2 linked regions of the Homo sapiens genome follow. The protein of the gene in region 1 purifies or fractionates together with the protein of each later gene. This does not show direct contact. Each region holds a gene or a part of one and is shown on either strand. Other genes may lie near its edges. The genes, in order: CYSTM1 and ARVCF.

What was found.
Region 2: the proteins of CYSTM1 (region 1) and ARVCF purify together in Homo sapiens (affinity purification with mass spectrometry; one large-scale study listed by BioGRID and IntAct). This does not show direct contact.

What each region holds. Positions count from the first base shown.
Region 1 is NC_000005.10:140,181,589-140,185,403, reverse strand, and holds part of CYSTM1 (cysteine-rich and transmembrane domain-containing protein 1), read right to left. Parts: intron 1-3,815.
Region 2 is NC_000022.11:20,006,817-20,010,631, reverse strand, and holds part of ARVCF (splicing regulator ARVCF), read left to right. Parts: intron 1-123; 5' UTR 124-177; intron 178-3,815. UniProt on the Homo sapiens protein: Contributes to the regulation of alternative splicing of pre-mRNAs.

The sequences.
Region 1 (3,815 bases):
CTGAGCTATTCTCATATAGTCAATGAATGAATAAGTATTAGAACGTATCTTTTGTATCAACATTTTGGCTGTGGCTTCACAATAGCCCCTCTATGGAGTACAAAATGATACACAGCTCAGATATGGGACCTTTCGCTGAACAAGGGCATCAAAGTGCACATGGAAGGCAAAAACTAACAATGGATCATCTACCTCTGAAGGCCCTGGCCCAGAGTGATGAAGAGGTTCAGAGACTGTCTTATTTTCCTTTCTCACAAAAAATATCTGATACAAAAACCACACACTGCTTTTATAACTGAGTTCATATGAAGCTAAAAATCTACAAACTATTTAGTAACATAGTTTGCTAATGCCATTCAGATAATTGCTTTAAGCCGCTATCCCCAACATTAAGATAACACAAAGATGTAAGTATTCTCAACTTGTCCTGATAGATTAGGAACAGCAAATTCTGAAAAGTCATACCATACCTACATTAATTATCCATAGTTCAGAATTATTTGAAAATGTGACTACAGTCAATCTTGTCTCCCTCCAATACTAAACTTGGTAGGTACATTTTAGCATTCTTCCAGACTTAGAGACTTTCTGAGGGAATTCAGAGAAGTTCCCTTCAACAGAGGATAACATATCATCTGCTAAAACCTTTCTCCATAAAGCTTTCTGTAAAGAACCTCTAGTTGGATCCAGGGCTTGGTGCTCTGTAAGATATAACATTTATAAACATTCCTGGGAAAAAAGACATTACTACCTGAAAATATCAACAACTAAAATGACCTATCCTTAGCCACCAGGTATTGGTGTCCCATTCCTCCCTAATGTTTAGAGCAGACAGCCTTTCTTTTTATAGCGGGTCTATCCTTTTTTCTTATAAACTCTTCAATAAAGACATATTTTTAAGTAAAACCCCAAATAAATACATAAAAACACCCTATCCTTTGAACGAGCAATTCTACCTTTAGGAATTTATCTTACAGATATATACTAGTGCCAGCCGGTATGCCAAAAAAAAAAAACCCAACTTTATACACATGCATATATATTAAATATAATGTTCATCAATATGAGAATGGTTAAATAAACCATGGTATTTCCAATCCATGGAACTGCTGCTATATGACGCTTCAGAAGAATAAGTTAGAACTACCTGTGCTGATATGAAAAAGCACCAACATGGTGGGAAAAAAACAAATTGCAACACAGTGCATTCTATTACCCCATTTGGGTTTAAAAATAAACTTCTATTTCTAAACCTGAATAGATCACACAGTTACACTAATGAATACAATTATTGATTAAACTGTACATTATACATACTTTTTTATACATATGTTATATTTAACAATGAAAGTTAAAACCCTTGCTAATCATCTTTAGGTAAAGTAGCCACATGGCTTTTACAAGAAAATAATCAATTTTTTAACTCATTAAGCAGGAAAGCCATGCTCCTAGATGCTTCCAACAATCCATCTAACCACATGGGAAGACAATTTGGTCCAGTTGCTACCTGGGAAAACCTAGCTTCAGGGCAGGATCCACAGCTGCAAATAGTCCTGTGGGTTCCAGGCTAACCTCACCCAAGGGCTCCTTCTCCAGCCTTCATTCATCATGTATGGTCCTCTGCAAAAGCTAGAGGACTGCCTGGATGCAGTATTCCCCTCTGCATTCAGCTTATGGAAGGGTCCCCACAGGTAAGCCTCAGCCCCTTGTCTAATGGATCCTGGCATTGTCAGCAAACCCTGATTATAATACCTTCCCCATACTGCTGGGACCCCCATATCGGGGAGGAGCACATCCAGCCTCACCCAACCACTCAGTTCAGGGACTCTGGTCAGTACCCCACCAACACTGCTATCTGAAAGCCAGTAGAGAAATGAAGGTTGGCTTCTCCTCAGAAAAATAGGGTAGGGATCTCTGAATTACATCTAGTCACTGGGACATATAGGACAGCATTATAATTGGAACTTCAAATAGTCAACCCTCAAAGTGAGAATGGAGAGAAAATGGGGCCCAGCAAGAGAGAGGCTCAAAAGAGAGGGCAGTATTGAACAGAAGGGAAAGGAAAAGGGAAGAAAGCTGTGAACACAGAAAGTGAGTTGGGGAATTGAAAGGAGCGGTTAGGGCATGGAGAGAGAGAAAAGGGAAGAACTCTGCCCCCTGCCAAGTTGAGAGGACACACTAGAAAGGGACAGGTCCATCCCTCCCAACAAGCCTGATAAGGCCACTTCCCAGGCCAGGTCCCCTGCCAGCCCAGCCCCTGAAAGACAGGCTCTGCCTGCCTCCTCCCAGAGCATTAGATTAGGCTTTGTGGGAAAGTTGAAATCTTGATGATTTAGAAAGAGGCCCCTACAGCTTAACGTGCTGGCAATTTAACTAAGCGCTCCTGGTTCCTGATGAATACCAAGCCAGCCTGGCTTTGCTCCATCATGAAAGCACGCTCTCCTGACCCTCTGAGGGAGCAGCAGCTCAGTCAGCACTGCGGGGTGGCTCTTAATGGACAACAGTGAATTTCACATCAAACCAGGAAGTACCACTCATGCCTATCATGTGCTGCACCCTAAGAGACCATACAACCCAGGGCAGCTCACCCTCCCCCTTTCTTCTGTTTTCATAGGATTCTTAAAGGAATAGGCTTTACGGACAATGAAGATTGGGGGAAAAAAATTCTAGATGATAACTTCAGTTTCTATCATTAGCAACATCCACAAACAGTTCTCTATATGTGAAAGGAACTCAAAGTAGTTTGGGTTATTGATGAGTTAAAAAAAAAAAAAGCATCCCTCCTGCCCCCCAAGAAAGATCTGAGTTTCCCAGGAGAATCTGAGTTTTCTAAGAGCACGCTGGCACAGAAAGAACAATGTAACACAGCATCAATGAAGCCACACCCCTGGCAGAGGGCCTAGAATTTAATATAGTATACAGCCTCACCACCACTCAGGCCTCTTTTTGGCAAACTTCAGATCAAAACAGAAGTGGTTTCACATTGCATTTACCTCTTGTTACCTCCTAGATTCTTCATTCTGTGGCCTTCCTAGTATCATAGAACCACACAAGTTTTAGGAAAAGATAGGATTGAAGGGGCCCTCTCTGAAGGCCTGCCTACTCCAAACCATCCTACCACCCATCTACTGCTGCCTGAAAAACTCACTATTAGTGAGTCATATCTTTGGGTAAAGGCTGTATTGCCCCAGGTGGGATATGTGGAACTTGGGGAACATGGACAAACAACTTCAATAATTTATACCTTCTATTTGTGACAGGTGATGTAGTAGTTATCAGTTTAAGGCAATGATATCGTTTCCCTTTTAAACAAATTTTAGGGTTTTAAAAAATGGGTCAACTTTAAGAAGAATGTTAAACAACAGTACAGATGACATAAAGATAAGACAAAAATCATGCAGGGGAACACAAATGAAGTGTGAAAAACACTAGGGTTTACTTTCAAGACCCTCCCTTTAAATACAACTACCCGGCCGAAGGTGGTGTCACACGCCTGTGATCCCAGCACTTTGGGAAGCTGAGGCAGGAGGATCCCTTGAGGCTAGGACTTTAAGAATGGCCTAGTCAACATAGCAAGACCTAGTCAACATAGCAAAAAATACAGACGGGGGTCCTGCTATCTTGCAGTGGCAGTGGCCCCCGTGGCTCTTGCAGGTGCAGTGGCTCATGCAGCAGGATTGCCTGAGCTCAGGAGTTTGAGACCAGCCTGGGCAACATAGTGAGACCCCCATCTCTATGAAATATAAATAAAAAATTAACCAGGCACAGTGATATGTGCCTGTAGTCCTAGCTACTCAGGAGACTGAGGTGGGAAG
Region 2 (3,815 bases), on another chromosome or scaffold:
ATGACCTTCAGATCAGGCATGACAAGGTCCTGCTTAGAGGACGGTCTGGGCTTGTGTACCTTTATCCGGCAGGGACCTACCCAGCTGGATTGACCTCACTCATGCCCTCTGGTTTCCCTGCAGGAGCCAGAGCCTGCAGGGTGGGTGTCGGGACATGCTGATCTTCCCTCAAGACAGGTGAGTGGCCTGGGTTTAGCTTGGGGACATCCTCTCCCACATAGGACAGCAGAGTGTTCTGGTGGGCCTGGCGGGTGGGGGTGACAGGGATGGACTGGCCCTGGACACTGTGTGCTCCTGGTCCTTCTCACCCTGGGTAGGCACAGCCCCTGGGCTGGACAGGGTGGATGTGAGGGCCTCCTGCCACCAGCTTGGGTTTGTTACTGGCCTGAATATGGGCAGCAGCCACTGGTTTGATGTCTGGCTTTAGGGACAAGCCTGTTTGGGGCTGGCTGACGAGGTTGCTGGTCAGTGTTGGTTTGGACATTCACTGGGTCTGCTCTTCACCTGCCTGAGCTAGGATGCCAGCCGCAGTGGCATCCAGTATTGGCACAGCCTGCTGGGCCAGGCCATTCGCTTGCCCCCCAGAGACTGGAGCCACAGGGACAGAGGATAGTCCTGGAGGCCAGGCACACAAAACTTTGTTTGAAAAGGTCTGATAGTAAGTAATTCAATTTTGCAGGCCTTATGGTCTCTGTCACAGCTGCAGTTCTCTGCCATTGTAGGATGAAAATGGCTGCAGACAGCCCATAACTGAATAGTCTGAATGTACTCTGATCACAGCCGTAGGCCATGTGTACTGGCCCGTGGCCTCAGGTGTTATCTGTGTTTGGGGTTCCTCTGCTTATCATGGCTGCTAGCTCCAGTGGGACTGAGGCATAGCGCCTGGGAAGCATGGCAGGGTTGGAGGCTGAGTGGTCCATGTCCCCCAGGACCCTCTGAAGGATGGTAAGGCATACCCTGCTCACATCCACGCTGCCAGAGTTTTGCCACGATGGGTGCTGTTCAGCAGAGTGGGTGATGGCTTAAGAGAATGGCTCCTGGCCATTCTTGTTCCTCCAGTCCCCACCCTGGCCATCTGCCTGTCCCCCCAAAAAGCAGTCTCTGTGGGAGGCATGGCTGACAGCCCTGTGGTTTCTCAGTGACAATTAGTGCCCATTGTGGAGGCATGGCCCAGCCAGTGCTGTGCCTAAGTGGTAGGGAGAAGGCCATGGCCTCCGGATGCCTGAGTGACCTAGGCTGAGGGATCTAGGGCAGATGGGAGGGACAGGATGACTGACTCCTTGCCTGTTCCCAAGTCCTTGGGCATGGAAAGCTGCCGGCCGGGCCAGCCTAGTGGGAGCTGGGTCTGCTGCCGCCTGGCTGTGTGGGAGGACCAGCGTCTGGCCGAGAATGTCACTGCTCAGGCCATTTGGCCATGCAGGGTCTTCTGGGTTGGGACAAAGAAGCTCAGGCAGGGTACTTGGCTTGCTTGTGGCACAGGTGACAGGGCATCTCAGGGTGGCAGGAGGGGCTGTCCCACTGCCCTTAACTCCTCGTAGGTCACCACACTTCAGGGAGGCCAGGTCAGCCAGACACCAAACGACAGCCCTGGTAACAGGGTCCGCAGGAGGGTGGTTGGCTGGGCAGGTCCGAGGCTGCCCAGGCACACTTGCTCACTCTCCCTCCTGTTGCTTGCTCCTTTCTTGTCCCTTCTTTTCCCTCCCCCCTCCAGTTCTTGGTCTTCTCTATGTTTCTCTGTGGCCCTCTCTGTGCCTCTTTCTCTGCCTTTCCCCATCTCCTATCCTGCCCATCTGGAATGTGGTGATTGCTTATTCCTGTCTGCTGTGGTGATTGGTTTTTCATGTCTGCCCTGGGCACTGGTGCGATGGGTGATGGCATTTGTGCCATCTCTGCTCTGGCTTGGGCAACCTGGGCTCTGGCTTGCGGCTGCCTGCTCTGCTGGGCCCTGGGGTGTGGTCCTGTCCACAGCGGGAGGCAGCTGGGGAGGGAGCCTCAGGGCTCAGCTGGGACAGGGGCTGATGTAAACACCCATGTGTCACCACACTCAGCACCCACTCACCCAGCCTCATGCTGGGTCCTGGGCATCACAGGCACATCAGGCCCAGCCCTGCCCCTGAGGAGCTCCCAGCCTGGTTGAGGAGATCCACAACACACAGAGGAACCAGTGGCCAACTGTGGGGTTACAAGATGGTGATGAGTAGCATGGCTCCCTTAGGAGGGGGAGCTGGGAGGGTGTGATGGGGTGGTGCGTGCTGAGACCAGGCCTGAGTGAGAAGGGCTGGCGGGGACACAGATGCCCTGCCGTTTCCCATAGCTGGCCAGCAGTGGTGTCCTCTCAGAGACCAGCACCAGCCTGGCCTCCTCCATCAGCCGCCGTGTGCCTGCAGGGGGTTGCGGCTTCGTCTCCTGCGGCCGCCTGGCCCCTATGACAGGCCTTCTCTTGGGTTTTGATGTGTTTCTCAGCCATTGTATGAGTCTTTGTATATTAAAGATATTAATTCTTCACTCCTCTTTCTGCCTACTGCACATTTTTCTCACCCTTTTAGTTTTTGTTTATGATCATTTTGATGTCAAAAATGTTTCATATTTTGTGGTGAAGTGTGTTGGATTTTTCCCCATTTTTAGATATTCCGTCTCTCTGTGTAGTCAACTCTCCCTAGCATGCAGCCAGATAAAGATGCACCTGTCTTTTCTTCTAGAAGGTATTTTTACTTTAGTTTTGTACACAGCATTTAATCTGTCTGTCTTAGTCCATTTTGGGCTGCTGTATCAGAATACCTGAGACTGGCTAATTCCTGAAAAACAAAGACTTATTTCTAACAATTTTGGAGATGGGGAAGTCCAGGATTGAGGGGCCACATCTGGCGAGGGCCTTCTTTGTCGCTACATCCCCCAGGAGGTGGCAGAAGGGCAGGAGCACACGTGAGAGAGCGCTGAAGGAGGCGGAACCCATCCTTTTATCAGTAACCTGCTCCCGAGATAACAAATCCACTCCCACTGTAACGGAATTAATCCATTCATGTAGCAGAGCCCTTGTGACCTAAACACCTCTTAGAGGTCCTACCTTCAACACTGTTGCGTTGGGAATTAAGTTTCCAACACGTGAACTTTGGGGGACACGTTCAGCCCATAGCACAAACTAGTATTTATTCTGATGTAAATGGACGGCAAGGATTTAACTTTGTTTTTACAGCTGCATCTGAACTGTTTCCTTTTTGTTTGTTTGTTTTGAGACGGAGTCTCGCTCTGTCACCCAGACTGGGGTGCAGTGGCGCATTCTTGGCTCACTGCAACCTTCACCTCCCACGTTCAAGCAATTCTCCTGCCTCAACCTCCCGAGTAGCTGGGATTACAGGTGCCTGCCACCATCACCAGCTAATTTTTAAATTTTTTTTTTTAATAGAGATGGGATTTCACCATGTCCAGGCTGGTGTCGAACTCCTGACCTCAGGTGATCCTCCCGCCTCGGCCTCCCAAAGTGCTGGGATTACAGGTGTGAGCCACCGCTCCCGGCCATGCCTGGCTAATTTTTGTATTTTTTGTACAGACAGGGTTGTGCCATGTTGCCCAGGTTGGTCTCGAACTTCTGGGCCCCAGCAATCCACTTGCCTTGGCCTCCCAAAGTGCTGGGATTACAGGTGTGAGCCACTGCACCCAGCCTTAAATTTTTACCTTTGATATACTATTTATTTCAAAAGGGTAGGCCAGGCGCGGTGGCTCATGCTTGTAATCCCAGCACTTTGGGAGGCTGAGGCAGGCAGATCACGAGGTCAAGAGATCAAGACCATCCTGGTCAACATGGTGAAACCCCGTCT